Regions from separate parts of the Homo sapiens genome. Here all the other regions are linked to region 2. Evidence: fine-mapped expression QTL. A gene starts in region 2. Each other region holds a variant in brackets. All regions are shown on one strand. Distances are between the middles of the regions.

Region 1 (8,107 bases), 37 kb after region 2:
TTCTCATTGTTGGACACTTCTGAAAAAGGCCAAGCACAACTAATTGAGGGCCCCAGATATACAAACATTATTCTGTCATTTCTCCAAGCTGTTTGAAGTTTGAAGTTTGTCTTTCTGTATATTATTTCCCAGTCCTACCTACATCATTTGTTCTTTTTTTTTTTTTTTTCTTTTTTCTTTTTTTGAGATGGAGTTTTGCTCTTGTTGCCCAGGCTGGAGTGCAATGGCGCAATCTCGGCTCACCGCAACCTCTGCCTCCCAGGTTCAAGCAATTCTGTCTCAGCCTCCCGAGTAGCTGAGATCACAGGCATGCACCACCATGCCTGGCTAATTTTGTATTTTTAGGAGAGATGGGGTTTCTCCATATCGAGGCTGGTCTCAAACTCCTGACCTCAAGTGATCTGCCCACCTCAGCCTCCCAAAGTGCTGGGATTACAGGCGTGAGCCACCGCGCCCGGCCCATTTGTTTGCTTGATATTCTCAGGCATCTGCATTAACTCTCTTTTCTTATGATCTACGGCATTGCAGTTGTATAGCCTCTCAACATACCTGTTTGCCCTTCCCAGTGCCATTCCATGTCCCTGCTCTTGGGTAAAATGACACGTGTTTGAAGTGGTCCCTTCTCACTCTGTCTCTTGTTGATCCCTGGAATCACACATAAGCAGTGGTCACTTTCTTTGCAATCTTGAGTTTCCTCCTGACATTTGCCTTCGATGTCATCATGGCCACCTACAAGCCTGTTTTTCATCTGCATGTTCTTTTGTCACTTACACTTTCTAAGTTATCTTTGCATAACTGACTTCTGCTTGAGTGTCAGTCACCACCAGTCTGGTCTTTCCTGTGTGTGTATGGGTTTCTCCAACTTGATTATTTGTCCTTTCCTCCCTCTCCTCCTTTAATAGAGGAGCCTCTTAGGGATGTTTTCCTTTTTTGTGTAATATTTTCACTTCTCCATTACCTCTTTCTTGATTTCTCTCCACTTCCCAAACCTCTACTCTTTGTGGAACTCCTTGCTACAATGCCACCTTCTCCGACATTGTGACTAAGGTCAGAAGTGACTTGGTGCTTATAAATCACAAGTCCTTGTCATTCTTGGGCCATCAGTAGAATTTTATTGTGTCTAATACTCAATTCGTGAAATATGTTCTCTTTCCTTGGCTCTGTAACATCTTTTTCCTCATTCGTTCCCTCCCTCTCTCCCTTCTTTGTGCAGTCATCCATATCTAGCTGCCCACTCAATGTTGAAATACCTAAAGGTTTTGTCCAAGGCTCTTTTGCCTTGTATGGCCTCTCCCCAGCCTCATCTGTGCCCTTGGCTTCAGTTACCTCCCTTACTTTAAAGGCATTGAAAATAGAATACCCCAGTCTTGAGCAATCCTTACAGCTCTGGACCTGAATTACCAGTTATCTTCTTGCTATCTTCACATAGATGTTTCAAAGATACCTCATTCTTCACCTGATGTAAATAAGATCAATAAAATGCTTCTCCCTGACTCTGATCTACTTCAGTCTTCCCTCTTTACTACATGGCACTGTTTAGTTACGTTGGCTAGAAATTTCCAACTCAGCATAGTTACCTCAATCTCTTCCTCCTTCATGTACAATCAGAAAGTTGTGTTTTTTTGTTTGTTTTTTTTTTAACACAGAATCTCGTTCTGTCCCCAGGCTGGAGCAGTGGTGCGAACTCGGCTCACTGCAACCTCCGCCTCCTGGGTTCAAGCAATTCTCCTGCCTCAGCCTCCTGAGTAGCTGGGATTATAGGTGCATGCCACCACACCCAGCTAATTTTTGTATTTTTAGTAGAGACGGGGTTTCACCACGTTGGCCAGAATGGTCTCAATCTCCTGACCTTGTGATCTGCCTGCCTTGGCCTCCCAAAGTGCTGGGATTACAGGTGTGAGCCACTGCCCCGGCCCCATCATTTTTAATTCTTAAATATCTCTCAAGTATGTCCACTTCTCTCTACCACCTCTTCCTAGTCCATCCACTCACCATCTATCATCTCAATTAGTGTCCTTTTACCCACATTTTCTCTTCAATCCATTCTCTAAGCTGAAACCAGAGAACCATCTCAGATTTAATAGTGCTCTGCTTCGCCCTCCCTCTGCCCCCACTACGTTTCCTGAAAACTTTTTATGGCTTCAACTCTTGGGATAAAAACCAAATATGGCCAGGTGTGGTAGTTCACAACTGTAATCTCAGCACTTTGGGAGGCCAAGGTAGGAGGATTGCTTGAGCCCAGGTATTTGAGACCAGCCTGGGCAACAAAGTGAGACCTCATCTCTAAAAACAACTCCCAAATCATTACACGGTCAATCCTTTGGGCTTTATCTGAGCTTTATCTGGTCTGGGAGGTGCCTCATTTACTACCTTTCATCTTGCATAACTTATGCCCTTTCTGTTTTCACTTTGTGTTTCCTTTTCCCACCTGCCATGGGGCTTTTCCACCACACACTTTGTCCAGTAGTGAATATTTATCCTTCATCCCAGCTACGTCATAAGCATTCTTTCATAAATATCTGTGTGTGTGTGTGCATACACATGCATATATATTTAGGTTTGATTACTGACTCCTGACTGTCTCACCAACTAGATTTCCAGCTTCAAAAGAGCACAGATGTTAATATGGATTTTATCCTAATTGTTCCATGCACATAGTTCCTAGTCAGTAGTAGATATTCAGATATCTGCTAAATGGATACGTGGATGAATGGCCTTAATCATCTTGATATTTTAGGTTACTTACCTCAGGCTTCATGATTTGCTAGAAGTACACACAAGACTCAGAAAAGCTGTTATGGTTATAGTTTATTACAATAAAAGGATATAGACCAGGATCACCAAAGGGAAAAATCACATAGAATGAAGTCCACATGAAAGCAGGCACAAAACTCTGGGTGTTATCTCCCATTACGGTCACATAGGGACACACTTAATTCCCCCAGCAAAGATGTGTGACAAGATGTTCACAGTATTATAATACAAGCCAGGGAAGTTCACTCAAGCATTCATTTCTGGGGTTTTTATGGAGGGTCATTTACATAGGAATGCAGGGTCCACATAACTAGTCATAGCCATACAGCCCTTGCAAAAAGCAAACATACAGTGTGGCCCAGGGCCTCGGGCATGCAAAATCCAGCATTCACCATGAGGAATATTGTCAGAAGCATTTGAACCACAGCAAATCCGTCTTGAATAGGGGCTGGGCAAAATGAGGCTGAGACCTGTGCTGCATTCCCAGGAAGTTAGGCATTCTAAGTCACAGGAGGAGACAGGAGTTTGGTGCAAGACACTGCTCACAAAAACCCTGCTGATAAAACAGCTTGTGGTAAAGAAGCTGGCCAAAACCAAGACGGCCAAAACCCACCAAAACCAAGACGGCCAAAACCAAGACGGCCAAAACCCACCAAAACCAAGACGGCCAAAACCAAGACGGCCAAAACCCACCAAAACCAAGACGGCCAAAACCAAGACGGCCAAAACCCACCAAAACCAAGACGGCCAAAACCAAGGTCATCCTCACTGCCCATTATATCCCAATTATGCATTAGCATGCAAAAAGTCACTCTCAGCAGCACCATGACAGTTTACAAATGCCATGGCAATGTCAGGAAGTTACCCTATATGGTCTAAAAAGGAGAGGAACCCTCAGTTCTGAGAACTGCTCACCCCTTTCCTGGGAAACTCGTGAATAATCCAACCCTCCTTTAGCATATAATCAATAAATAACTATAAGTAGCCTTAGTCCAGCAGCCCAAACTACTGCTCTGCCTATGGAGTAGCCATTTTGTATTCCTTTTTTTTTTTTTTTTTTTTGAGACGGAGTCTTGCTCTGTTGCCCAGGCTGGAGTGTAATGGCATGATCTTGGCTCACTGCAACCTCTGCTTCCCGGGTTCAAGCGATTCTCCTGCCTCAGCCTCTCGAGTGGCTGGGATTACAGGCATGTGCCACCACGCCCGGCTAATTTTTGTGTTTTTAGTAGAGATGGGGTTTTGCCATGATGGCCTGGCTGGTCTCAAACTCCTGACCTCAGGTGATCCACCCTCCTCGGCCTCCCAAAGTGCTAGGATTACAGGCGTGAGCCACCGCGCCTGGCCCCTTTACTTTCTTAATAAACTTGCTTTCATTATGGACTCACCCCGAATTCTTTTTTGTGGAAGATCCAAGAACCCTCTTGAGGTCTGGATTGGGACCCCTTTTCAGTAACAATGTTCTTAGAATAAATTATCTCATCAAATCGATACATGAAGGCCTATGGACTCAGGCTTAAAAATTACTTTTACCAGGCAAAATATTCCAGAAACTCAGAGATTGTCTTCCTGGA[G/A]CTGATCAAGGGCCATTTCTTTCTTTAGAATGTATAGCATCTGAGCAACTGAAGCCTGATGAGTTCACACTTTCGTGTATAACCAAAGCCCTGGCCCTAGCCTAGAATCTCTTACAGCAAAACAATCATATTTACTGAGCATCTACATTTAGTATAACATTTATATAAGATATATCAGCAGTATCATCATGAACATGCTGAGCCACTGGAGCAGCTCGTGTGGGGAATGGATAGATTTAGAAACAACAATCCATCCCATAAAGCCATTCATACTTTTCCATATATTTGTATCAATTCAATTACTCATTGTTCTCCTTGATCTACTGTTAATTGTACTTTGTGGTAAACCACCTCCCCTCTCACTACATTGGCTTAAGTTATCCTCCACCTTGCACATCTGGAAAGAGCCAGAGCTCCCTAACAGGACTTCTCCCTCTTGCCCCTCCCATATTCCAATTTCCATAGACTACCCAGAGTGATCCTTTTAAAACATAAATCAGTCCAGGCACAGTGGCTCACGCCTGTAATCCCAGCACTTTGGGAGGCTGAGGCGGGTGGATCACGAGGTCAGGAGATCGAGACCATCCTGGCTAACACGGTGAAACCCTGTCTCTACTAAAAATACAAAAAATTACCCGGGCATGGTGGCACATGCCTCTAATCCCAGCTACTCCAGAGGCTGAGGTGGGAGAATCGCTTGAACTCAGGAGGAGAAGGTTGCAGTGAGCCGAGATCACGCCATCACACTCCAGCCTGGCGACAGGGCAAGACTCCGTCTCAAAAAACAAACAAAAACATAAATCAGATAACATCACAGCTCTGCTCAAAACCCCATGATGGCTACCCATTTCACAGTGTATTAGCTATATTTTCTTATTTTCTGCATTGTTGATGCTATGGAATTTGGGACCTTGCCATTTAGAGTTAACTGATTCTTAGAGATTGCAAATGACTCACTCTGAACCATGCCTTTTATTTGCATACTAACAAATCCAGAGTACCCTAATGTGAATCATCTCCTCTGTCTGGCTCTTACACTACAGGAGACAATTTTTTTTTTTTTTTTTTTTTTTTGCTCTAATGACTCCAGGGCCAGGTACTAGGCAGACAGGGACAGCTCCTAGACCCCAAAGTCTACCAACTTTATTCAAACCAGCAAATCCTCTTCTGGTTACCCAGCCCTGCCTTTCTTTTCCTGTGGAAAACAATAAAGGATCTGGCCTCTGCTTTCTCCTCTGCTTCTGCTTCTTATACCACCCTGGTGCTTCTCACATAGCCCTGCAGGATGTGTTTTGCCTACTGTTTCTAAAACTCCGTGAGTTGAAAGTTCTTCCTTCCTGGCAATCATTTGCATGTCCGAGTTTCTTATCAGACCATACTGCAAAAAACCCCAGGTACATTTTTGAACACACAGGAACATATTACAACCTCTCTACGCTGGCATAAAAGACTACACAATTTGTTTCCATCTATCTCTCCAACTTCCATGCACATTCAGTTCCAGCCGCACTAGGCTTCTTGGTGTTCCACAAACACCCAGGATGCTCTGTCAGTTCCATTGTCCTGTGTGTTTTCTCTGAGTGATAACACTGTTTCCTGAGATCTCCACTTGATGAGTCTTTAATTCCTCCAAGTCCATGCTAAAACATCACTTTTTTTTTTTCTTTTGAGACGAAGTCTTGCTCTGTCGCCCAGGCTGGAGAGCAGTGGCGTGATCTCGGCTCACTGCAACCTCTGCCTCCCGGGTTCAAATGATTCTCCTGCCTCAGCCTCCCTAGTAGCTGGGACTACAGGGGCCCACCACCACGGCCAGCTAATTTTTTGTATTTTTAGTAGAGACGGGGTTTCACCATGTTAGCCAGGATGGTCTCGATCTCCCGACCTCATGATCTGCCTGCCTCAGCCTCCCAAAGTGCTGGGATTACAGGCATGAGCCACCACGCCCGGCCTAACTGTCCTATTAGACCTGTCCCAACCACTCTGTATTGCACAACTGGCTTTATCCCACTCTCACTGATTCTTAATCTGCTCTAGTTTGTCTTATCTCCGCAACACTCCTAACCTTCTATATTGTTTAGGAGTTTTGGATTATTATTATTTTGTGTGTGTGTGTGTGTGTGTGTGTGTGTGGTATGTATGTGTCTCCATTGTGACTTTTTGTTTTTTTGTTTAGAAACAGGGTTTCGCTAGATAGCCCAGGCTGGTCTCAAACTCCTGGTCTCAAGCGATCCTCCTGTTTCAGTGTCCTGAGTAGCTAGGACTACAGGAACAAACCCACCAGGCCCAGCTCTGTATCTCCACTGTTTAGAGCAGAGCCTATCACAAGATAGTCAAGTACTTGTTGAGTTAATTAATTAAAAGTTAGTAAATATATAAAAATATATTTTCAAATGGTTATGAATGTCCTAAAGAAAAATAGAGCAGAGTAATATTGGGGTGAGGGACTACTTTAAAATTTTTATTATTGTTATTATTTTTTAAACAAACAGGTTCTCTCACTCTGTTGCCCGGGCTGGAATGCAGTGGCACAATCATGGCTCACTGCAGCCTAAACCGCCGTGGCTCAAGTGATCCTCCTCCCTCAGCCTCCCGAGTAGCCAGGACTATAGGTACCCACCACCACGCCTGGCTAATTTTTAAATTTTTCACAGAGACGGGGTCTCACTATGTTGCCCAGGCTGGTCTTGAACTCCTGGGCTCAAGTGTTCCTCCTACCTCGGCTTCTCCAAGTGTTGGGATTACAGGACCCCACACCTGGCCGGAGGAGCTACTTTAGATTAAGAGATCCGCACTTGAGCCCAGGAGTTTTGAGAGGAGCTGGGCAACACAGTGAGACCCCATCTCTACAAAAAATAAAAAAAAAATTAGTTGGGTGTGTTGGTGTGGGCTTGTGATCCCAGTTACTCAGGAGGCTGAGGTGAGAGGATCACATGAGCCTGGGAGGTGGAGGCTGCAGTGAGCTATGACCCTGCTACAGTACTGCAGCCTGGGTTACAGAGGAAGACCCCATCTCAAAAGAAAAAAAAAAGAGTAAGAGATCTGGAGAGGCCTCTATGAGAAGGGAATGGTTGATACAAGCTGAGACTCATTACCTGGACCACATGTCTACAATCCAGGTGGCACTGGCTCAACACTGTATCTTTTACATCATCTTGCAAAGTGCCTTCCCTCAGCTTCTCTAAGAAGTATTTGTAGAGTGAATGTTGAGTGGATTTTATAATAATGCTGTGAAATCCCCATGGTCTCCTGGCACCACTGTAGGACTGTTACTGTAGGACTGCGGGGTCACCCCTGGCTGTTAAGGCCATTTCCCTTTCTCTTCTCTCAGCAACCAGCCTATGGCTTCAGGGGAAACTTCCAGTTCAAGACTGAAAGTCATGGTTTTGGCCCTGAGATGTATTTCTGCTCCTGACTCCATGAGAACAAGACAGATTCTACAGGGAATGAAAGGAGAAGCTACAAGGAATGAAAGGAGAAGGAATGAAAGGAATGAAGGGAGAAGGAATGAAAGGAGAAGCTGACTGGAGCAAACACTAGTTATGAAAGGATTCCCTATGAAGTGAGACTTGAGATGAAGAGGAAGCAGCAGATTCCAGATGAATTTTAGGGTTGGAACCCATATATTACCTTCATAACCAGAGAGCCTGGTATTCTTGATTCTTCCACTATAGACCACTGATGTGGTTTGAGAAGAGAGTACAGAATGACACCACTTTCAACAATACCCAGAGGCATAAATTGCTCCAAAGCTTTTTATCAGGCTTGACCGAACACGGTGGCTC
Region 2 (8,107 bases):
GCAAAGTTGTGTGCAACACATTCACAGTATTGCCAGCCAGGGAAGCTCCCCCAAGCCTTGACGTCTAGAGTTTTCGTTAAGGGTCATTGAGGTAGGAATGCAGAACCCACATGAATAACCATAAATATCCAGTCTACAACCCTTGCAGAAAACAAACATATAGCATGGCCCAGGGCCTCATGCATGCAAAAGCCAGCATCCACCATGAATCATATTGTTAGCATAAATTATCTGGTCAAACGTGCAGCAGGACCTACTTATGGTTTTCGACATAAAAATCTTACCAGGCAAGATACCCCAAGAGGTTGTTTTCCTGAAGTTGGCCCTAATTCATTCTAGGGTCAGATATCAGATAGCTGCGGACAGTGCCTGTGTCCTAAAACCTGCCAACATTATTCACAGTAGCAAATCCTATTCTGTTTATGCTGCCCCTGCCCTGCCTTGCCTTGCCTTTCTGGTGGAAAACACAGCGCAGGCTCTGGGCCTTGCTTTCTCCTCTGCTGCTGCTTTCTAACCTGCTCTGGTGCTTCCACCCGCATGGTGTGCTCTGCCTCCTGTTTCTAGGGATCTCTTACTATAAACTTCCTCCATAATAATCACTTCTGTATCTGATTGTCACACCCTGCCTGACTAAATACAATCCCAGGTATATTCTAGAATACACAGGGAGCCTATTACAACATCCTTGGGCCAGGCGCAGTGGCTCGCGCCTGTAATCCCAGCACTTTGGGAGGCTGAGGCAGGACTGCTTGAGCCCAGGAGTTCAAGACCAGCCTGGGAAATATAGTGAGACCCCATCTTTAAAAAGAATAAATTTTTAAAAATTGGCTGGATGTGGTGGCATGCACCTGTGGTCCCAGCTACTTGGCAGGCTTAGGTGGAAGAATTGCTTAAGCCTGGGAGTTCGAGGCTGTAGTGGGCCATGATGGTGTCACTGCACTCCAGCCTGGGTGGAAGAGTGAGACTTTGTCTCAAAACTAAAAATAAAAATATGACCTCCTTACTGTGGCCTCCAGGACACTACAGAATTCACGTCCATCTATCTCTGTGATTCAGTTTATCTTCAGCTGCAGCCATACTAACCTTGTTGCACTTCCCCAAACACGACAGGATCCTCCTGCTTTCATTCCCTTGTCTTAGGTGCTCTCTCTATGAGACCCTGTTACCTCAGATGCTCCATTCCTCCAAGTCCATGCTCAGATATAACTGTCTTTTAGACATTTCCCAACTACTCTACCTCCCTCTAACCTTCTATATTGTTTACTTTTGTGGTTGTGGTTGTTCTTTTTGAGTTACTGATTGTTGGAATTAAAAGGTCCCCGAGGGCCAGGGACAGTGGCTCACGCCTGTAATCCCAGCAATTTGGGAGACTGAGGTGGGTAGATCATCTGTGGTCAGGAGTTCGACACCAGCCTGGCCAAAATGGTGAAACCCTGTCTCTACTAAAAATACCAAAATTAGCCGGGCGTGGTGGTGTGCACCTGTAGTCCCAGCTACTTGGGAGTCTGAGGCAGGAGAATTGGTTGAACCTGGGAGGCAGAGGTTGCAGTGAGCCGAGATCGCACCACTGCACTCCAGCCTGGGCGACAGAGTGAAACTGCATCTCAAAAAAAAAAAAAAATTCCTCAAGTACAGGAATGCATAATTATTTTGCTATGTACATATCTGATTTTTTAGAGCAGTGCCTGTTGCAAGATAGGCACTCAATCGATACTCATTAAATTAACAATATACACATATATAAAACAGCACTTTCACATGGTTATGAGTGACCTAAGGAAAAACAGAACAGGATGACGTTGTAGTGGGGGCTGTTTTAAATTGACAGTTTGGAGCTGGGCGCAGTGGCTCACACCTGTGATCCCAGTATTTTGGGAAGCCGAGGCGAGTGGATCACCTGAGGTCAGGAGTTCGAGACCAGCCTGGCCAACATGGTGAAACCCTGTCTCTACTAAAAATACAAAAATTAGCCGGGCATGGTGGCAGGTGCCTGTAATCCCAGCTACTCAGGAGGCTGAGGCAGGAGAAATGTTTGAACCTAGGAGGCGGAGGTTGCATGAGCTGAGTTCGAGCCACTGCACTCCAGCCTGGGTGACAGAGCAAGACTCCGTCTCAATAAACAAACAAACAGACAGGTTTGGGAAAGCCTCTGAGAAAGGAATGGTTGGCCTGAGCTAAGCGCCATTACCCTGATCCACCTATTGTAACCACCTAATGGGTTCATTATTTTCCCTGCTCCCCAGATAGAGTCGACTTATCAAGACAGGATAATTGCAATAAAGGGTTTAATTCACATCAATCGAGCTAAATGAGAGACCAGAGTTTTATTACTCAAATAGGTCTCCCCAAATATTTTGAGACGAGCTTTTTTGTTTTTGGGTTTTTTTGTTTTTGTTTTTGTTTTTTTTGAGACAGAGTCTCGTTCTCCTTCTGTCGCCCAGGCTGGAGTGCAGTGGCATGATCTTGGCTCACTGCAACCTCCGCCTCCAGGGTTCAAGCGATTCTCTTGCCTCAGCCTTTTGAGTAGGTGGGATTACAGGCATGCGCCACCACACCCGGCTAATTTTTGTAGTAGAAACGGGGTTTCGCCCTGTTGGCCAGGCTGGTCTCGAACTGCCTACCTCAGGTGATCCGCCCGCCTCGGCCTCCCAAAGTGCTGGGATTACAGGCATGAGCCATCACGCCAGGCCTTCAATTATATTTCTGCAAGATATGTTCCCTGTCTAAAAGAATTCAATTTTTAATGTTTTTGAAACTTATGTGTTTGCTAAACAAATACGTGGGGGCTGATTTTACGATCTGAGGCCAAATCCACAAACTGATTACAGGGTCCAACAAATATTTGGCGAGTGGGAGGAGAGGGGTAAGTGAGCTGGACTGGTGGCGTCCTGGCTGTGAGCAGGCACAGCCGCAGGCTTCAGGGAGCCCCATCGCGGTGACCCTGGAGAGTGGCCTGAATCGGACGTGACCTTGAAGCAAGGTGGTTTTGGGGTCGCCGGCTGCACAAGGCGCGAAGTGGTTTAGGGTCACGGGCTGCACGAGGCTCCAGCACGTCAGGAGTGGGCGTCTGTTCATTCCCACGTGCATCGCGGCTCTCTCCTAGTTGACGCATGCACACCCCGTGGGTGTATGCGTTGTTCATTCCCACAACGGCCATCACCACCTCTCCGCACCCTCTGTCTCCTTCCTTCTCGGGCCTCACCCCTGGCCCTCGCTTTCAGTGCCCAGCCCGGACCGCAGCACTCCAGTTCCGCCCCAACCCGGGAACCCTGGACTGAGGCTCCCGTTTCTGTCCTTTCTATTGGGCGCACTTCCGATGGCGTCAGGAATTTCAGCCAATAGGAGCCAGCCAGGAAGTACCTCTCTGAGCGGTTGGTGCCGGGTATAAAAGAAGGCCGCGCAGCCACGGCTGCTCACGACGCCGCGGATCCCGAAGCCTGTGTAGCAGTGAGACATCAGTGAGGCTGCAGGACGAGCAGGATTGGAAGCGCCCCGGCCAGAAAGTGACCCCCCACCCCTTTCAGGACCCTGTGAACGGGAACAGCCATCCAGAGGGTTCAGGAAGGCGTCCGCGCCCTCACCTCTTCTCCCCATGAGCTCCCCCAGAGCTGTGGTGCAGCTGGGCAAAGCTCAACCTGCAGGCGAAGAGTGTGAGAGCCAGCGCCAGAGAAAGGACGCAGGGAAGGCTGGGGACTGGGCCAGGGGTCGGGTGCACAGAAGACACATGTGTTGACATCTCCCCTCCCTCTCCTCCTCCCCAACGCTCTTCTTTTCTCCCCACTCCCTCCCTTCCCTCCAATTCTTTCTTTCACCTCTCCCTCCCCTACTCTCTCCTCCCCTTCCTTTCTCTCTGCCTCTTCTTCACCTCCTCCTCCCCTCCCTACCTTACCTTACTCTTTCTTCTTCCCCTTACCTCTCCCTCCCCCTCTCCCTGCCTTCCCCTTCCCTCTCTTTCTCTCCTCCCCTTCTTCCCCTCACCTCTCGCTCCCTATTCCCTTCTCTACTGTTCTCCTCTCCTCTCTTTCTCTCCCCTTCTCCTTCCCTCCCCTCTCCCTTCCTATCTCCCTCCTCCTCCTCTCTTTCAGTGGCTACAGCAAACCAAACAGCCCAGCAGCCCAGCAGCCCAGCCATGTGAGTCCCTTGGGATTGGTATCTGGAAAAGGAAGGAAGGTGGGACGTGGGGATGAAGAACAGACTGGGTGTGTGGGGTGCTGGCTCCTGGGAACGAGAACTACTGATAGGGCTGGGTCTGTGTGAGAAGGGAAAGCGGCAGAGGAAGGATACAATGAAAGAGGAAGGGGAGCATTGGCATCCCTGACTTTCCCTCCGCCTACCCTACCTCCCAAGCTGAGGCTTTTTTCTTCCTCTCCTGTCAGGCGGCGCCTCACAGTCGATGACTTTGAAATCGGGCGTCCCCTGGGCAAGGGGAAATTTGGGAATGTGTACCTGGCTCGGCTCAAGGAAAGCCATTTCATTGTGGCCCTGAAGGTTCTCTTCAAGTCGCAGATAGAGAAGGAAGGACTGGAGCACCAGCTGCGCCGGGAAATTGAGATCCAGGCTCATCTACAGTAAGGACAGTCTCTGCTTCCTCTTTCATCTTTGACGTCTGAGCCCAGCATTTTCCCCAAATACTAACCCCAAGTAAACCCTGCACTTGTACCTTGAAGACTTCTCTGCAGTTCATTCCATTTACACTACCTCCTACCCTGGGTCAGACACTCGAATCCTGGTTCCTGTTCTCCGTTCTCCCCTCACTTGCTCCCAGATAGGGCTGTTGTTATTCTGGTCCCAGCATAATTTGCCACTTGTGTGACCAGGCAGTGACGGTGGCATCATATGATAGGCCTCAGGGAGAAATCTGACTCTTCCAACATTAATCCTTCAGACACCCCAATATCCTGCGCCTGTATAACTATTTCCATGATGCACGCCGGGTGTACCTGATTCTGGAATATGCTCCAAGGGGTGAGCTCTACAAGGAGCTGCAGAAAAGCGAGAAATTAGATGAACAGCGCACAGCCACGGTGAGGTGCGGGTCTGGAGGCTCTGGGGTCTCTGAGTTTACTGTGGGCTGGTGGGAGCTCTGTTTGTGGCTGTCAGGAGGGTCCGCATTGCCTTCTGAGAAGTTTACTTCTGAATGTTATTGTGTAAATTTAATATAATGGCACGTATGTTCTACAGCTTTATCCTTGGATACCCTAATTAACCTCATTGTATCTCCAGAATATTAATAAGTACTGCGTATAGGTTTGGATTCTTTGGTTATAAGCAACAGAATCTAACTCCACTGCCTTATGTAAAGAAACATATTGAAAGGCTCTGAAGGAGTTCACTGAATAAATAGCTAGAACTGGCTTAGAGATAGGTACAAAGAGATTTCTAGAGGGTTCCGGAAAGGGAACCATGGCAATGATTTTCCCAGGAGCAATGGTCCAATCAGCTTGCTGTGTCAGGATGAGTGGTCTTCCATCTTTCCTCCTGTTTCTGTTTCACTTCCTCGGGCCTCAAGTCCTGTGAGAGATCATCTGAGTGGCTCAATGTAGGTTCTATGTCTGGCTACTTGCTGTGCTAGGACAACAGGGAGGATCTGTGTCCATGTTACCATCCATCCTATAAGACCACATAAAAAGGAGAGGAAAACCACACCCCACACACCAGTAACTGGTGCAATTTAAAAGGAGGAAATGGAGTTACTGGACCAAAAAGATTCCACTGTAATCATACAATTCATGGTAAGTGTTCCACCTCAGACGGAAATTGTGGCAGGCTTCACTTCCAGGGTGACTTTTCTTTGCACCCACAGATAATAGAGGAGTTGGCAGATGCCCTGACCTACTGCCATGACAAGAAAGTGATTCACAGAGATATTAAGCCAGAGAACCTGCTGCTGGGGTTCAGGGGTGAGGTGAAGATTGCAGATTTTGGCTGGTCTGTGCACACCCCCTCCCTGAGGTAGGTCAGGTGGTGGTGGTAGGGTGAGTTCTGAGTACCAGTTAGGAATGACCCAGTTTAATGTATTTCATGTGTCCATGTGTAAAACCTAGATACGAACTTGGGGTTTCTATTGGAATACTGCCTTTTTCTTTTCTTTTCTTTTCTTTTTTTTTTTGAGACAGAGTCTAACTCTTTCACCCAGGCTGGAGTGCAGGGGCACAATCTCGGCCTCCCAGGTTAAAGCGGTTCTACTGCCTCAGTCTCCCAAGTAGCTGGGATAACAGGCATGTGCCACCACACTCGGCTAATTTTTGTATTTTTAGTAGAGACAGGGTTTTGCTATGTTGGCCAGGCTAGTCTCGAACTCCTGACCTCAGGTGATCCGCCCACCTTGGCTTCCCAAAGTGCTGGGATTACAGGCGTCAGCCACCATGCCTGGCTGAACTACTGCCTTTTTCTTTTCTTTTTTTTTTTTTTTTTTTTTGAGACAGAGTTTTGCTCTTGTTGCCCAGGCTAGATTGCAATAGTGTGATCTCGGCTCACTGCAACCTCCCCCTCCCAGGTTCAAGCGATTCTCCTGCCTCAGCCTCCCAAGTAGCTGGGATTACAGGCATGGGCCATCACACCCGGCTGATTTTGTATTTTTAGTAAAGACGGGTTTCACCATGTTGGTCAGGCTGGTCTCCAACTCCTGACCTCAGGTAATCTGCCTGCCTCGGCCTCCCAAAGTGCTGGGATCATAGGCATGAGCCACGATGCCTGGCCAATGCTGCCATTTTCAAACACCTATACTTGATATGTATTCGTAGATTTAAATAATGTGGTCCAATCAAACCTTTTATTTTCTGATCTTTGTTAATATATAACTATACCAGTAAGTTTGCATGTAAATAAAGTCATTGCTCCACAATTCCAAAGGAGTGCATTTTTCTGTATGAATGATTTTCATACAGAAATTTTCTTACCATAATTTATTTACTTGGCTCTCATTGATACACCATCAGTTTGTTCTAGATCTTTCTTAATGCTGAGAATATTCTTGTGAAAACATTCTGGAGCATGAGCTAAATCACTGTGTGAATAATTCCAAAATATGGATTTATTAATAGTAGGCCCCAGTACTTTTCTGAACCTTGATCCATATTAAAAATTTGTCTCTCCAAACTCCTGTGCTTGGGAGGGACTTTCCAGGGTGTCCTAGGGTCTCCACATCTCAATGAAAGCTGGGGAAGGAGAATTTCCCTCATCCTGGGCCTCTGCTTAGTACTTATTCCCTTTTCTGCCTTCCTCTAGGAGGAAGACAATGTGTGGGACACTGGACTACTTGCCGCCAGAAATGATTGAGGGGAGAACATATGATGAAAAGGTGGATTTGTGGTGCATTGGAGTGCTCTGCTATGAGCTGCTGGTGGGATATCCACCCTTTGAGAGCGCCTCCCACAGTGAGACTTACAGACGCATCCTCAAGGTGGGACAGTCACCTTTGGGCATTCATGGGGGAGCTGGTCAGTGATGGCTGCTGGGCTGTGGGCACACACACACACAGGGTTGTCTTCTGTGGTCCAGAACAGCGCCTTAACAAGGCTCAAAGAAGAGGGAGGACATTGATCAAAGAAATTAACCAGACTTCTCTTTCTTCTTTCCTGGCCTCATCAGGTAGATGTGAGGTTTCCACTATCAATGCCTCTGGGGGCCCGGGACTTGATTTCCAGGCTTCTCAGATACCAGCCCTTGGAGAGACTGCCCCTGGCCCAGATCCTGAAGCACCCCTGGGTTCAGGCCCACTCCCGAAGGGTGCTGCCTCCCTGTGCTCAGATGGCTTCCTGAGCCCTGTCTGCCTCTGTTCCCTTTGTGTGTGTTCAGGGAGCTCTCCTGGCTCTGCCACCTCATTTGTCTTTATTTTTTTCTCTTTTAAGATGTAAGATGCTAATTAATAAAAGCTGAATCATTTCATACCAGCTCTTCATAGTTGTGTGAGTTATTATGTGACTGGGTAGAATCTTTATTTCTTGTGGGAACTCTTTCCCATGAGAGCTGCCCAAGGTTGTTCTCCCTGCTACCCCCACCTTCCACCTCGGGAGATGGTGACTTCATTCTTCTGAAAACTCTTGCCTACTTTCAGGTCAGGCACGGTGGCTCACGCCTGTAATTCCAGCACTTTGGAAGGCCAAGG
Region 3 (8,107 bases), 59 kb before region 2:
TTCTTTTCTGTATATGACATTTCATCACAATATTTTTTCACCAAATTTGTCTGGAAATCTAGAGCAGAATTTTCTGCTGTTTGTTTATATTGATGTTTATATTTTGATGTAAATTATATGTACATCTACTTGAACATTAGTATTACAATTATAAATGTGCTTTAAATTAATTGACACAATATTGGATATTCATTATAATTATATTATCATTAAATATATTATATTAATATATAATATTAATAATATAATCTTGATATACCATATAACAGATATATTACATATTATATTTACTCCAGTTAAATATTATATTTACTTTTTAGCTTTATTGAGGTACAGTTGACAAAAATGATATATATTTAAATATACAATTTGAATTTTGATATACACATATAATTGAATCCCAGATTCAATTACCATAATCAAATCAAGCTGATTGATGTATTTACCACCTCAAACCACACCCTTTGTGTGTGTGTACATATATATTACATTATATTATATTTACTCCAATTATTGTATTTACTTTTTAGCTTTATTGAGGTACAGTTAACAAAAATGATATAAATGATATATATTTTAAATATACAGTTTGAATTTTGAAATACACAAAAGATATAATTACCATAATCAAATCAAGCTGATTGATGTATTTACCACCTCAAACCACACCCTTTGTGTGTGTGTACATATATATTACATTATATTATATTTACTCCAATTAAATATTGTATTTACTTTTTAGCTTTATTGAGGTACAGTTGACAAAAATGATATAAATGATATATATTTTAAATATACAGTTTGAATTTTGAAATACACAAAAGATATAATTACCATAATCAAATCAAGCTGATTGATGTATTTACCACCTCAAACCACACCCTTTGTGTGTGTGTACATATATATTACATTATATTATATTTACTCCAATTAAATATTGTATTTACTTTTTAGCTTTATTGAGGTACAGTTGACAAAAATGATATAAATGATATATATTTTAAATATACAGTTTGAATTTTGAAATACACAAAAGATATAATTACCATAATCAAATCAAGCTGATTGATGTATTTACCACCTCAAACCACTCCCTTTGTGTGTGTGTACATATATATTACATTATATTATATTTACTCCAATTAAATATTGTATTTACTTTTTAGCTTTATTGAGGTACAGTTGACAAAAATGATATAAATGATATATATTTTAAATATAGTTTGAATTTTGAAATACACAAAAGATATAATTACCATAATCAAATCAAGCTGATTGATGTATTTACCACCTCAAACCACACCCTTTGTGTGTGTGCATATATGTTACATTATATTATATTTACTCCAATTAAATATTGTATTTACTTTTTTTTTTTTTTGAGACAGTGTTTCACTCTTGTTGCCCAGGCTGAAGTGCAGTGGGGTGATCTCAGGTCACTGCAGCCTCTGCCTCCCAGATTCAAGTGATTCTCCTGCCTCAGGCTCCTGAGTAGCTGGGATTACAGGCATCTGCCACCACGTCTGGCTAATTTTTTGTATTTTTAGTAGAGATGGGGTTTCACCATATTGGCCAGGCTGGTCTCGAACTACTGACCTCAGGTGATCCACCTGCCTCGGCCTCCCAAAGTGCTAGGATTACAGGTGTGATCCACTGCCCTGGGCCTTGTATTTACTTTTTAGCTTTATTGAGGTACAGTTGACAAAAAAGATACATATTTTAAATATACGATTTGAATTTTGATATACACATATAATATGATATGGTTACCATAATCAAATCAAGCTGATTGATGTATTAACCACCTCAAATTATACCCTTTGTGTGTGTGTGTGTGTGCGGTCAGAACACTTTTTAAAAAAAATATCCTTTTCTCCCCCATGCAGAAGAACACTTAAGGTCTATCCTTGTCGCAAAAAATAAAAATCTATCCTCTTAGCAAATGTCAAGTAGTATTGTTTTTTTCATTTCTGATCATCCAATTTAAAATTTTTTTTTCTAATTTGTTAACTATGTCACATAATGTCACAATGTACATGTCAAATAACGTCACTATGTACCTTAAATCCCCAAAACTTATCTTGCAAAACTGAAAATTTGTACTTCTTGACCAACATTTCCCCATTTCCCCTTCACTCAAGCCCCCGGCAACCACCATTTTACTCTCTGCTTCTATTTTTGATCCAACCTCACTGTTTGTGTCCACGCTCCTTAATTTTCTTGGTCATGAGACCACGAGCTTAGATAACACCTTAGACAATGAGACCAGTGACCCTGACCTGTTTCAGTTTAGTTATTTAAAATATTTTTCTTTCTTTTTTAAATTGTATTTATTTATTTATTTGTTTTGAGAGGGTCTTGCTCTGTCGCCCAGGCTGGAATGCAGTGGTGCAACCATGGCTCACTGCAGCCTCCGACTCCTGGGCTCAAGCGATCTTACCCCCTAGGGCTCCAAAAGTGCTCTGACAGTAAATGCATGAGCTACCATGCCCAGCCATCAAATTTTCAATCATTATAAATCTTAGAGCTGGAAATAATATCTCATTGTTTTATTTTTAATTTGAGCGCTAGCGTGCTTGAACACTTTTAATCAAATGTATTTGCCATATTTTATTTTTCTTTTATTAGCTTTCAGATTCTTTGCTTCTTTCTTAGGTAGAACATTTCTTTGAGACTTAAATATTATGCTGCATTTGTCCTATGTCCTGCAAGTGTTTTCTTAATTCAGTATTTTAAAATAATATTTTGTTTTTATGTTTTTTGTATCTTTATAGCATTCTTCTAAATTGGATCTATGTTTATTTTAATTGTCTAGTCAAAGTACTGACAAGGAGGAGTGAACTTCCTGAAAACGGAGAACAAGATGTGATGCCTTTTAGTAAATGTTTACCAAAAGACACAGGATTCCATTTCCAATTCCATATCGAGAACCTTTAAAATTGTACATAAAAATGCAGGTGAAGTCGTGGAGAAGGGAGGCCAACAGTGCACACAGGTAGTGCCTCTGGGGAAGAATCAGAAGTCATCCTGCATCCTAAATTCCTGACCTGACTTTTCTGCAGGGCGAGTATCTGACCTGTGCTACACCATCAGCAACACAAAGAAAACTTGATGAGCTTTTATTTCCTTTTATTTGTATGTTTCACTCCAGTTTTCAATTCCGTGCCCTCAAAAGCCCGGATATCATCACCGGTACCTCTTTTAAGCTTCACCTCTCTGTGCGGCTCC[G/A]CAAGTATGTTGGTCTCCCTGAGAGAGTGGGGCCTGCAACCTGCTGGGCGCAGGCGCCTTGAGCTGCCACGTCTGCCCTTTTACCGGCTTGGGTGCAGGCAAGGGAAATGCGTCCCCGGGCCGGGGGGCGCGAGCGGGGGTCCGGGGCCGCGAGCTGGGGTCCGGGGAGCGCGAGCGGGGGTCCGGGGGGCGGGGGCCGCGGGCCGCGAGGGGGGCGGGGGCCGCGAGGGGGCGGGGCGTGCGAGGGGGCGGGGGCGTGCGAGGGGGCGGGGGCGCGCGAGGGGGCGGGGCGCGCGAGGGGGCGGGGCGCGCGAGGGGGCGGGGCGCGCGAGGGGGCGGGGCGCGCGAGGGGGCGGGGCGCGCGAGGGGGCGGGGCGCGCGAGGGGGCGGGGCGCGCGAGGGGGCGGGGCGCGCGAGGGGGCGGGGCGCGCCGGGCTCGTCCTCTCCGCGGCGCTCAGTGGCAGCAGGGAGGGCCGGTGAGATGCCAGAGCAAGGTAGGGTCCTGTATTTGGGGACCGCTGACGTTTGGGTCCCCCTCCCGCGGCTGTTAGCGCTGCGTGGCCCGAGACCTGCGGTCGGGCGGGGATTAAGGCTGCTTTCCGGAGGGCCCCGGCCGCGTGGTCGCCCTGCCAGAGCGGTTGATGTCAGGCAGTGCTGGGAGGCGTTGCTCTCCGGGTTCGCTTCTCTCCTGTTGTCCTAACTCTGCATCTCTCCCGGGTGAATCACAGAGCTGTAAACTAAAAATCAAATTCTAAGCTCCCAGCCAACTGAATGGACCCCTCCTCTCAGCTAAGAGCATGGCAAACTTAACCGGAAACACTAGTTCGGCCGCGATAGGAAGGAGATGGGACATGCCTCATTTTACCCTCCTCTCTTTGAAATTCAGGCACAGGTCGGGCGCGGTGGCTCATGCCTGTAATCCCAGCACTTTCGGAGGCCGAGGTGGGTGGATCACATGAGGTCAGGAGTTCGAGACCAGCCTGGCCAACATGGAGAAACCCCGTCTCTACTAAAAATACAAAAATTAGCCAGGCGTGGTGGCGGGCGCCTGTATCCCAACTACTCAGGAGGCTGAGGCAGGAGAATTGCTTTAACCCGGGAGGTGGAGGTTGCAGTGAGCCGAGATCGCGCCACTGCCACTCCAGCCTCAGCACCAGAGCAAGACTACGCCTCAAAAAAAAAAAAAAAAAAAAAAGGAATTCAGGCACAGCTGACCAGTATTAACATTAAAACAATTTTTTTTTAGTATCTTCATGCTAAAGGGGTAAGTAGAAATTGCATGTAGCCTCCCATCAGTTTATTCCAAATAGCAAACATTTACCAAGCCCTGAGTTATTAACTACGTATTTTCTTTTTGTAAACCTTACAATTGAGCAGGCAAGTAATAACATTATCTCCATATTTTTAATGTGAGGAAACTGAGGCCCAGGAAGACGTGTAATTTGCCCAATATCAGGTATTCAGTATATTGGAGATTTGAAGGACAAGTTATTTATTTTGAAAAATGTATACCTTTTCCAAAGTTCCAACAATAATTCAATGAACACATTTATTTTGCCCCAGAATTGCCAATGATGTTATGTCCTATAAGGAGGCACCTAAGTATACAGTTTGTCCATTTGGGAGATTTGGATTTTGACTACTTGGTTAAGATGGTATCTACTAGATCTCTCCACTCTTTCTTCTTTGTAATTAATAAGTAATCTGTGGGTCAATTCTTTGCAATGTCTGAATAATATTAAGTCCCCCCACTTCAGCCTCTAGTTTTAGCCTCTGTTGATGATTCTTCCCTGAATCTGTGATCACTGCTTGTGGGGATTCTATTTCTATTACTTCTTTACATTTTATACTTATAAGTTGACACTCCTGTAAAGAACTTTACCCATCCCATTCTTTTTTCTTTTCTTTTTTTTTGTTTTTGAGAAAGAGTCTCACTCTTGTCATCCGGGCTGGAGTGCAGTTGCGCGATCTAGGCTCACTGCAGCCTCCGCCTCCCGATTTCAAGTGATTCTCCTGTCTCAGCTTCCCAAGTAGCTGAGACTACAGGCGTGTGCTACCACACCCAGCTAATTTTGTTTTTTTTGGGTTTTTTTTTTGTTTTTGTTTTTGTTTTTTTTTAGTAGAGATGGGGTTTCACCATGTTGGCCAGGCTGGTCTCAAACTACTGACCTCAGGTGATCCACCCCCCTCGGCCTCCCAAAGTGTTGAGATTACAGGCGTGAGCCACCGCGCCCGGCCCACCTCAGGTGATCCACCCCTCTCAGCCTCCCAAAGTGTTGAGATTACAGGCGTGAGCCACCACGCCGGGCCCACCTCAGGTGATCCACCCCCCTCGGCCTCCCAAAGTGTTGAGATTACAGGCGTGAGCCACCGCGCCCGGCCCACCTCAGGTGATCCACCCCTCTCAGCCTCCCAAAGTGCTGAGATTACAGGCGTGAGCCACCGCGCCCGGCCCATCCCATCCCATCCATTTTAAGTTAGTTAATTATTTTAGAAGCCACATGGAGTGGATGATTTTTATCTGCGGCATTATAATCCATTTATCTCATTGTATTGGTGCTCACACTACCCAGCATTAGCCTCTCCAAACTCAAGTAGGCTTGACTTTCTTATTTCTATCACAGAGCTCCTGAAACCCTTGGAATTTCCTGTGTGTTGAAATGTCTTTTGTTATTTTTAATGACTTTTTGATCACATCTCAGTTTATACCAATGAGATGGCTTAGGGTGGAGACCCTAGACAGCCTCAAGATGAAGCTGGTCACCAGAAAGATTAGAGAGTTGGAACTTTCAGTCCTACCCACCAACCTCTGTGAAGTGGAAAGGGTGGGATGGCTTGACATGAAGCTCTATAAAAACTCTTGGACAACAAGATTTTAGCTTTCCAGATTGCTGAACACATTCAGTGTTCCTGGAGAGGGCATGGAAGCTCCACACCTCTTCTCACATACCTTGCCCTGTGTATCTTTTCTGACTGTTTGTTTGTATCCTTTGTGATATCTTTTATTATAAAACAGTAAACATAAGCAAAGTGTTTCCCCGAGTTCTATGAGCCATTCTAGAAATGAGTTCTAGGGGGTTGTGGGAACCCCAATTCTAATGTAGTTGGTCAAAAGCACAGGCCACAACCAGGTGATTGTGACTGGCATCTGAAGTGAAGGGCAATTCTGTGGGACTTAGTCCTCAACCTATGGGATGTGACACTTCCTTCAAGTAGATAGTGTCAGATTTGAATTATAGGACACCTACTGGTGTCTCCTGGAAAACTGGGATGGATGAAAAAACCTCCACTCATTTGGTCACACAAATGTTCTGTTTTGAGTGAGTTGAAAGAAAAGAACAGTTAGTTTTTTTGCTTTAGATGTGGTGTCAGAAATGGGATGTTGAATGATTGTGTAAGAGTGGGAGCACTTGGCAGAGAAGTCAAAGATGGCGGCTGTAGCTGCTGTTCGCTGGCTGGGGCTCTGCAGCAGGCTTGACCAGCCACTGACGGGTCAGCCAGCAGGTCTATGTGAACAAGCACACAGCTGAGATTTTATTCTGGAAGTGCAACCCTCTCAAATATTGAAGGAACTGATATAACAGGGATTGAAGAAGTAGTAATTCCAAAAAAGAAAACTTGGGATAAAGTAGCCGTTCTTCAGGCTCTTGCATCCACAGTAAACAGGGTTCCCACGGCTGTACCTTGCGTGTTTCAAGATAATCCTTACCTCATACCAACATCCTCTTCAGAATCTCGTTCATTTTTACTGGCAAAGAAATCCGGGGAGAATACGGCCAAGTTCATTATTAATTCATACTCCAAATATTTTCAGAAAGACATAGCTGAACCTCATACACTGTGTTTAATGCCTGAGTACTTTGAACCTCAGATCAAAGACATAAGTGAAGCCACTCTCAAGGAATGAATCAAGCTCAGAAAAGTCAAAGTCTCTGTGGACATGTTTGATGAGCTTTTGCAAGCAGGAACCACTGTGTCTCTTGTAACAACATATAGTCTCTTGGATTTATTGTGTTACTATGGTGACCAGGAGCCCTCAACTGATTATCAGTTTCAACAAATTGAACAGTCAGAAGAATTGGAAGAGGAAAATAATAAGAGGTCTAGGAGGAAAGCTGGTGATCAATTTGGAGTTACCTGGTGAGCACAAAACAACGCTGAGAGAATGTTTTCTCTAATGCCAGGGAAAAATGCACATTCCTATTGCACAGTGATCCGAGGAATGGTGAAGCATCAAGCTTATGAGCAGGCATTAAACCTGTACACTGAGTTACTAAACAACAGACTCTGTGCTGATGTATACACATTTAATGCAGTGATTGAAGCAACAGTATTGGTGATAAATGAGAAATTTGAGGAAGAATGGAATAATATACTGGAGCTGCTAAGACAAATGGTTGCACAGAAGGTGAAACCAAATCTACAGACTTTTAATACCATTCTGAAATGTCTCCGAAGATTTTATGTACTTGCAAGATTGCCAGCCTTACAGATTCTATGTGAAATGAAAGCCATCAGACTAGAACCCTCGCTTGCAACATATCACCATATTATTCAGCTGTTTTATCAGCCTGGAAACCCTTCAAAGGGATCATCTTTCATCATCTATGATATAATGAATGAATTAATGGGAAAGAGATTTTCCCCCAAAGGACCTGGATGATGATAAGCTTTTTCAGTCAGCCATGAGAGTATCTTCATCTCTCAGAAATCTAGAACTTGCGTACCAAATACATGGCTTTTTTTTTTTTTTTTTTTTTTTTTTTTGAGAGAGAGAGTCTCGCTCTGTCACACACGCTGGAGTGCAGTGGTGCAATCTCGCCTCACTGCAAGCTCTGCCTCCCGGGTTCACGCCATTCTCCTGCTTCAGCCTCCCGAG
Region 4 (8,107 bases), 48 kb before region 2:
TACTTCTATGCAATTTTAATTTTTTCTTTTTCTTTTTTTTTCTTTTTTCTTTTTCTTTTTTTTCTGAGACAGAGTCTCGCTCTGTCCCCCAGGCTGGAGTGCAGTGGTGTGATCTCGGTTCACTGCAAGCTCCGACTTCCGGGTTCAGGCCATTCTCCTGCCTCAGCCTCCCGAGTAGCTGGGACTACAGGCGCCCGCCACCATGCACGGCTAATTTTTTGTATTTTTAGTAGAGACGGGGTTTCACTGTGTTAGCCAGGGTGGTCTCGATCTCCTGACCTCGTGATCCGCCCGCCTCGGCCTCCCAAAGTGCTGGGATTACAGGCGTGAGCCACCGTGCCCGGCTGCAATTTTAATTTTTTTAATGAAGCTGTAAAGGGAGACTTATACAATAGCATAATATCCATTATTAGTAGCAAAGTAACAGTGTAAGAAACAGTACATCAGACTTAGTCAAAGGGCAAACAAAAGCCAAGTTTGGTGATCAGGGAAAACTCTGCATCCCCAAATGCTTATTGAGTAAAATGAAGGCCTACCAGTCAAAACACCACATTAAACCAGATGCTGGAAAAAGGATGGTGATATGGTTTGGCTCTGTGTCCCCACCGAAATCTCACCTTGAATTGTAATAATCCCCATGTGGCAAGGGCAGGGCCAGGAGGAGATAATTGAATCATGGGGATGGTTTCCCCCGTACTGTTCTGACGATGGTGAGTTCTCATGAGATCTGATGGTTTCATAAGGGGCTTCCCCCTTCACTTGGCTCTCACTTTTCTTACCTGCTACCATGTAAGATGTGCCTGTTTTACCTTCCGCCATGATTGTAAGTTTCCCCAGGCTTCCCTTGCCATGCAGAACTGTGAGTCAAACCTCTTTTCTTTATAAATTACCCAGTCTCGAGTAGGTCTTCATAGCAGCATGAAAACAGACTAATATAGATGCCATGCTCCTCTAATACCAATGTTGCTCTGTGCATGTGTCTTTGTCTATGTAAGAAAGAACTGAAACTAGAAAAGTAGAACCATTACATTTAGATATGTCCTGGCTGTAGTTTGGATGGGTTTGGAGGGCTGACACGATAAAAGTAATCTGACAGATGAGAGTAATGGGTTTAGAAAAATAAATGTGTTGGCTGGGCGCGGTGGCTCATGCCTGTAATCCCAGCACTTTGGGAGGCTGAGGCACGTGGATCACGAGGTCAGGAGATCGAGACCATCCTGGCTAACACAGTGAAACCTGGTCTCTACTAAAAATATTAAAAAAAAAAAAAAAATTAGCTGGGCATGGTGGCGGGCGCCTGTAGTCCCAGCTACTCGGGAGGCTGAGGCAGGACAATGGCGTGAACCCAGGAGGCGGAGCTTGCAGTGAGCCGAGATCGCGCCACTGCACTCCAGCCTGGGGGACAGAGTGAGACTCCATCTCAAAAAAAAAAAAAAAAGAAAAAGAAATTTGTTTCTAATGTGCAGGTTTAATTAGAGTGGAAGATGTCAATAAATAAGGTTTTAGCCAGACACGGTGGCTCATGCCTATAATCCCAGAAATCTAGGAGACCAAGACAGGTGGATTGCCTGAGTTTAGGAGTTTGAAACCAGCCTAGGCAACATGGCAGAACCCTGTCTCTACAAAAAATACCCCCCAACAAAAAAATTGGCCAGGTGTGGTGGTAGGCGCCTGTAGTTCCAGCTACCCTGCAGGCTGAGGTGGGAGGATCGCTTGAGCCTGGGAGGCAGAGGCTGCAGTGAGCTATGATTGTGCCACTTCACTCCAGTTTGGGTGACTAAATAAATAAATAAATAAATAAAATACAATAAAATAAAGAAAAGAAAAGAAAAAGAAGGAAGATTTTAAAGATACCATTGAGTAGCCTAGAGCGCTAAACTCTGATCTGCTTCTCCTTACCTAACCCTTTTGGGTTTTTTGTTTGTTTGTTTTTTGTTTTTTTGTTTTTGTTTTTGTTTTGAGATGGAGTCTTGCTCTGTCACCAGGCTGGAGTGCAGTGGCATGATCTGGGCTCACTGCAACCTCTGCCTCCCAGGTTCAAGTGATTCTTCTACCTCAGCCTCCCGAGTAGCTAGGACTACAGGCAGGTGCCACCACACCTGGCTCATTTTTGTATTTTTAGTAGAGACGGGGTTTCACCATGTTAGCCAGGCTGGTCTCGAACTCCCAACCTCAGGTGGTCCGCCCACCTCGGCCTCCCAAAGTGCTGGGATTACAGGTGTGAGCCACCGCACCCGGCCAATCCTTTCTTGTTACTTTCCTTTAATGCAGAGTTTCTCAATCTTGGCATTGAGAATGGGATGGATAATTTTTGGTTGCAGTGGGACATCCTGTGAAGTTTAATAACTTTAACAGCATCACTGGCCTCTTTTTAGTACATACCAGTGAGGCAGGATAGGTAGTCAAGGAGTGACCATATCCTGGGGACGCAGCAACCAGGGTGTCCATACAATCAACACAATAAGCCTCAGCATTCGAGTGGTAGTTCAGCTCATTCAAGCAAAGCTTTCTTCAGCAGGGAATTTCACCTGTAGGAACATGTGCGCTTTGATTTTACCTTTCCTCAGACACCCTTTGCTCATTATAATAGTAAAAAACAGGCCGGGCATGGTGGCTTACGTCTGTAATCCCAGCACTTTGGGAGGCCGAGGTGGGCGGATCACCTGAGGTCGGGAGTTCGAGATCAGCCTGACCAACATGGAGAAACCCCGTCTCTACTAAAAATACAAAATTAGCCGGCGTGGTGGCACATGCCTGTAGTCCCAGCTATTCAGGAGGCTGAGGCAGGAGAATTGCTTGAACCCGGGAGGTGGAGGTTGCAGTGAGCTGAGATCACGCCACTGCACTCCAGCCTGGGCGACAAGAGCAAAACTCCATCTCAAAAAAAAAAGTAAAAAACACACCCATGGGTGGCGATTTAAGATGTTAATGAGACATGTGACGTATGAACAAGTGTGTACAGCTACTGCACATGTGCACCCAGAGGAGCACCCAGAACATGGTTACTAGTAACACCTCTTTCCCACCTCCTCATGAATAATCATGGAAGTCTGCCATAAAGGGAATCCCCCAGCACCAGTCTTTGCTGTCTAATCCTTAGGAGCACCCCAGCCTGAATTCTCTCTCTCAGGGTGTATTGTCTATTTTTCACCTAATTTTCAAGATATTCTTTTTGCTTTACAATAAATTACTCTGTGCTCCATCTCTTGCTGTGTGATTCTTATTTAAGTTCTTTTAAACTAAGAAGACAAGAACTGAGGTATCACAACACCATCAACACCAGTAGCACCTCCCATCCCGAATATATGTTAGTGAAAAATGTCTCTGGATTTTGCTAAATGATCCCTGGACCATGACACTGACCCATTGCTTGCCTGGCTCCATCATGCTCCAGGAGGAGTGCAATTGAGTCTTTGAGGTTGTTAGGGCTTGTAAAGTTTGGAGGCTTTAAGTTGTACCTGCACCAGTTTTGGAGGTGGACACACACATTTGGGGATGCTAGGACTCTGTTCCTCCCCCAACCCCCAGACTTTTAAGGCACCAAGGAATATAAATATCATTTATTATTTTCCAGGCAGGTGCCAAGCCCTTTTTATTTAATATTCCATACAAAATTTGAAAAATTAAAAACAACCTAAAGTGGAGATTTCTACCTCTACTTTTTCAGATGAGAAAATTGAGAAATCAAAAGTTCTGAGACTCATTTTTTAAATTGAGCTCATATGTTTTGAGTGTTTCTTATGTTGCCAGATGTCAATGGAGTTTCTGGGATCTGAGGGGATGTGGGAAAAA[C/T]ATCGTTTCTTTTTTTTTTTTTTTTTTTTTTTGAAACGGAGTCTCGCTCTGTCGCCCAGGCTAGAGTGCAGTGGTGCGATCTTGGCTCACTGCAAGCTCCGCCTGCTGGGTTCACACCATTCTCCTACCTCAGCCTCCCAAGTAGCTGGGACTACAGGCGCCCGCCACCACACCTGGCTACTTTTTAGTATTTTTAGTAGAGACGGGGTTTCACCATGTTAACCAGGATGGTCTCAGTCTCCTGACCTCATGATCCACCTGCCTCAGCCTCCCAAAGTGCTGGGATTACAGGCGTGAGCCACCATGCCCAGCCGAAAAACATCGTTTCTTAGTTGAGTTATAATTAATATTGAGAGCATTAAATTTATGTAGAAAAATCATTTTTCCTTAAATCCTCAAAGATAACAAACAAGCATAAAAATCATTTATAGATTTAGTATTTTTCTGTTAAAATCATTTACTCTTCTTTGTTTTTGGGTCAGTGTTCAATTGGTTTATACCTTTGATAGTTGAAATTTACTTACTGAATACTGATATCATTTGTGGGTCCTGGTAAATATTTCAAAGTTGTCGTACAAACAGGACAATAGATTCTCTCAACTCTTCAAACGTCTAACATGACAGACTTATAAGTCTTTTTTCTTCTTTTTTTTTTTTTTTTTTTTTTTTTTGTAGAGATGGGGTCTCGCTATGTTGCCAAGGATGATCTTGAGCTGCTGGGCTCAAGGGATCCTCTCACCTTGACCTTGGCCTCCCAAAGTGCTGGGATTATAGGCATGAGCCACCACGCCTAGCCTCTTGCAAAGTCTTATAATGTCGTTTTTAAACTCTTAAGCTGCCAAGTGTGGGTGGCTCATGCCTGTAATCCCAACATTTTGGGAGGCTGAGGTGGGAGGATCACCTGAGCCCAGGAGTTCAAGACCAGACTGGGCAACATGGCAAGAACCTGTCTTTACAAAAAATTAAAAAATAAATTAGCTGGGCATGGTGGTACACACCCACAGTCACATCTACTTGGGAGGGTGAGGTAGGAGGATTGCTTCGGCCTAAAATGTTGGCTGGGCATGGTGGCTCACGCCTGTAATCCCAGCACTTTGGGAGGCCAAGGTGGGTGAGTCATGAGATCAGGAGTTCGAGACCAGCCTGGCCAACATGGTGAAACCCCGTGTCTACTAAAAATACAAAAAAATTAGCCAGGCATGGTGGCAGGTGCCTGTAATCCTAGCTACTCGGGAGGGTGGGGCAGGAGAATTGCTTGAACCGGGAGGCAGAGGTTGCAGTGAGCCAAGATCACGCCACTGCACTCCAGCCTGGGCGACAGAGAGAGACTCCATCTCAAAAAAAAAAAAAAAAAAAAAAAAAAAAGTCAAGGCTGCAGAAAACTATGGTCACTCCACTGCAACTACATCCTGGGCAGCAGAGTGACCTTTAATAAAATAAAAACACCCTTGAGCTACTCTCGTAAACCCAGTAAGACTTACACATTTAATAAATCAGATTGTCTTAAGCCTTTTGACATCCTAAATATAAGCTTATGCAAAGCAGCAACACACATGTAAAATATAAAAGTAACAAAGATAACTTCAATACAATTTTTTTTATTTTAAAAATTTTTTAAGAGTTGGGGGCTTGCTCTGTTGCCTGGGCTGGAGTGCAGTGGCAGGTTCATTGCTCACTGCAGCCTGAAATTCCTGGGTTCAAGTGATCTTCCCATCTCAGCTTCCCAAGTTTTGAGGATTACAGGTGTGAGCCACCATGCTCAGCTCTTAACAACTTTTTTTTTTTTTTTTTTGAGACAACGTCTCCCTCTGTCACCCAGGCTGGAATACAGTGGCACCATCACAGCTCACAGCAGCCTCAACCTCCTAAGCTCAAGCGATCCTCCAGCCTCAGCCTCCTGAGTTACTGGGACGACAGTTGTGCACCACCATACCCAGCTACTTTTTAATTTTTTTGTAGAGATGGTGTCTCACTATGTTACCCAGGCTGATCTCAAACTCCTGGCCTCAAGCAATCTTTCTGCCTTGGCTTCCCAGAGAGAGTTTTTCAGTCCATCATTTTTCAGGATTGTGAGCCAGGGTTCCATTAGATCTTATTGAGATATCTCTTGTGTGTCTGCTGTGTGCCAGACATGGTTTAAAAGACTAGAGATACAGGCCAGGGATGGTGGATCACACGTGCAATCCCAGCACTTAGAGAGGCCGAGATGGGCAGATTGCTTGAGCCCAGAAATTTGAGACCAGCCTGGGCAATATGGCAAAAGCCCATCTACAAAAATAAAAATAAAAATTAGCCGAGCATGGTGGCATAGCTGCATGTAGTCCCAGCTACTTGGGAGGCTAAGGTGGTAGGATCGATTGAGCCTGGGAGATCAAGTCTGCAGTGAACTGAGGTCGCACCACTGCACTCCAGCCTGGGTGACAGAGCAAGACCCTGTCTCAATTAAAAAAACAAACAAACAAAAAAAAAACTTAGGATCCAGCAGTGAACAAAATCATCACTGACGCTTACCCTCATGGAGCTAACATTCTGGATGAAAAGTCAGAAATAAACAATAATTATAATACAGAAATAGACATGATAAGTTAACCAGTGCTATAACAAAAAGAAGGAAAAGGAGAGTAAGGTGGATCAGGGTGTCAGAGTTTGGGGAGTTGTTTGCAATTTTCATTAGAATGATCAGGAAACAGCTTATTTAGAATGTGACATAGATCAAAGTCTATAGGGAGATGAGGGGCTGAGCCATGTGGAGATTGGGGTAGGAAGTGGATTTCCTGCCACAGGCTTTCAAGCAAGCATATAATATCCAGGGCTGGGTGCTGTGGCTCACGCCTGTAATCCCAGCACTTTGGGAAGCCAACGTGAGAAGATTGCTTGAGGCCAGGAATTCAAGACCAGCTTGGGCAACATATTAAGACCCCCATCTCTATTTTTTTTAATCTTTTTTTTTTTTCTTTTGAAACGGAGTCTCGCTCTGTCGCCAGGCTGGAGTGCAGTGGCCCGATCCCAGCTTACTTCAATCTCTGCCTCCTGGGTTCAAGCGATTCTCCTGCCTCAGCCTCCTGACTAGCTGGGATTACAGGTGTGTGCCACCACGCCTGGCTAATTTTGTATTTTTAGTAGAGACTTCCCCATGTTTGCCAGGATGGTCTCGAACTTCTCACCTCGAGTGATCCACCCACCTCAGCCTCCCAAAGTACTGGGATTACAGGTGTGAGCCACCACACCTGGCCAAAATAAGCCTTTTTTACTGTATTTATTTGAAGATTAAAGATGGTTTAAGGTGACAAGGGGTAGAGTATGATTGCCAACTATATGTGTAAACTTGTTTAGGCTGTACTACCCAGAAATTGTATTAAACACTGACCAGGGTATTGTTATGAAGGTATTTCATAGAAACGGTTAACATCTATAATCAGTTATTTTGATAATGTAGGTGGTTCTTATCTAATCAGTTGAAAGGCCTTAAGAGAAAAACAGGGTTCCCTGGGGAAGAAATTCTGCCTCAAGACTGCACCTTCAGCTCCTATCCACGTTTCAATTCTGCTGGCCTGAACTCTAGCCTACAGATTTGGGACTGGCCTGTCCCTGCAATCACATAGCCCATTTCTTCTTCTATCTTTTTTTAAAATTTTTATTGTAGGCAAGGTGGGTGGCTCACACCTGTAATCCCAGCACTTTGGGAGGCCAAGGTGGGCGGATTATGAGGTCAGGAGTTCAAGACCAGCCTGGCCAACACAGTGAAACCCCATCTCTACTAAAAGATATAAAAAATTAGCCAGGCACAGTGGCGGGCACCTGTAATCCTACCTACTCAGGAGGCTGAGGCAGGAGAATTGCTTGAACCCAGGAGATGGAGGTTGCAGTGAGCCAAGATTGCAACACTACACACCAGCCCGGGTGACAGTGCCGAGACTCTGTCTCAAAAAAAAAAATTATTGTGGAGGAATGGTCTCACTATGCTGCACAGGCTAGTCTCTTAACTCCCGGCCTCAAGAGCCGGGTCTGTCCTGTAGACCCTGGCTGAGCGATGGATGAAAGGAGTACTCAGACACAGGTATGTAGTGTAAGAGCAGCTAGGGGACTGCTGAAGAGTGAGCAGTCTTGATAAGCTGGGACTGCTTGCTTTTATTCAGTACAGACATAATGCCAAAAGCCTGGAGCCAACACAGTCTGTGGGTAATTAACATTATTGTTCCCCCTTTTGGGGGCAGCCTCACTCGTGAATGATCAAATGTTGGTTCCTAGTTAACATAAGTAAACAAGCCTGTTTATGTTAAATTCCCCTACACTTCCTTGTACCTACTCCTTGCCC

What was found. PIP is the estimated chance that this variant, and not a neighbour inherited with it, causes the effect.
Region 1: its variant is the best candidate, but not a certain one, in a credible set for the expression of AURKC in whole blood (INTERVAL, PIP 0.72).
Region 3: its variant is the best candidate, but not a certain one, in a credible set for the expression of AURKC in subcutaneous fat (GTEx, PIP 0.84).
Region 4: its variant is the best candidate, but not a certain one, in a credible set for the expression of AURKC in whole blood (TOPMed, PIP 0.86).

Annotation. Positions count from the first base shown.
Region 1 is chr19:57,264,403-57,272,509 of GRCh38, forward strand. ZNF460-AS1 (ZNF460 antisense RNA 1) reads right to left here. Exons shown (of 3, transcript NR_136529.1): 3 at 2,791-3,310. Among named protein-coding and RNA genes, the nearest start is that of ZNF460-AS1, 12 kb to the right of the region's middle. RefSeq lists a silencer at 7,561-7,620. The variant G/A (reference allele first, on the strand shown) is at 4,326.
Region 2 is chr19:57,227,657-57,235,763 of GRCh38, forward strand. It overlaps AURKC (aurora kinase C), which reads left to right and starts at 3,367. Exons shown (of 7, transcript NM_001015878.2): 1 at 3,367-3,650; 2 at 4,086-4,131; 3 at 4,377-4,568; 4 at 4,886-5,024; 5 at 5,804-5,952; 6 at 7,228-7,402; 7 at 7,591-7,892. The coding sequence starts at 3,593. The coding sequence ends at 7,761.
Region 3 is chr19:57,168,575-57,176,681 of GRCh38, forward strand. It overlaps LOC124904780 (a long non-coding RNA gene), which reads left to right and starts at 3,670. Exons shown (of 2, transcript XR_007067355.1): 1 at 3,670-3,722. It also overlaps the pseudogene LOC100132009. RefSeq lists a silencer at 3,257-3,306 and an enhancer at 3,638-3,697. The variant G/A (reference allele first, on the strand shown) is at 3,229.
Region 4 is chr19:57,179,161-57,187,267 of GRCh38, forward strand. No RefSeq gene overlaps it. Among named protein-coding and RNA genes, the nearest start is that of ZNF264, 8.3 kb to the right of the region's middle. The variant C/T (reference allele first, on the strand shown) is at 3,793.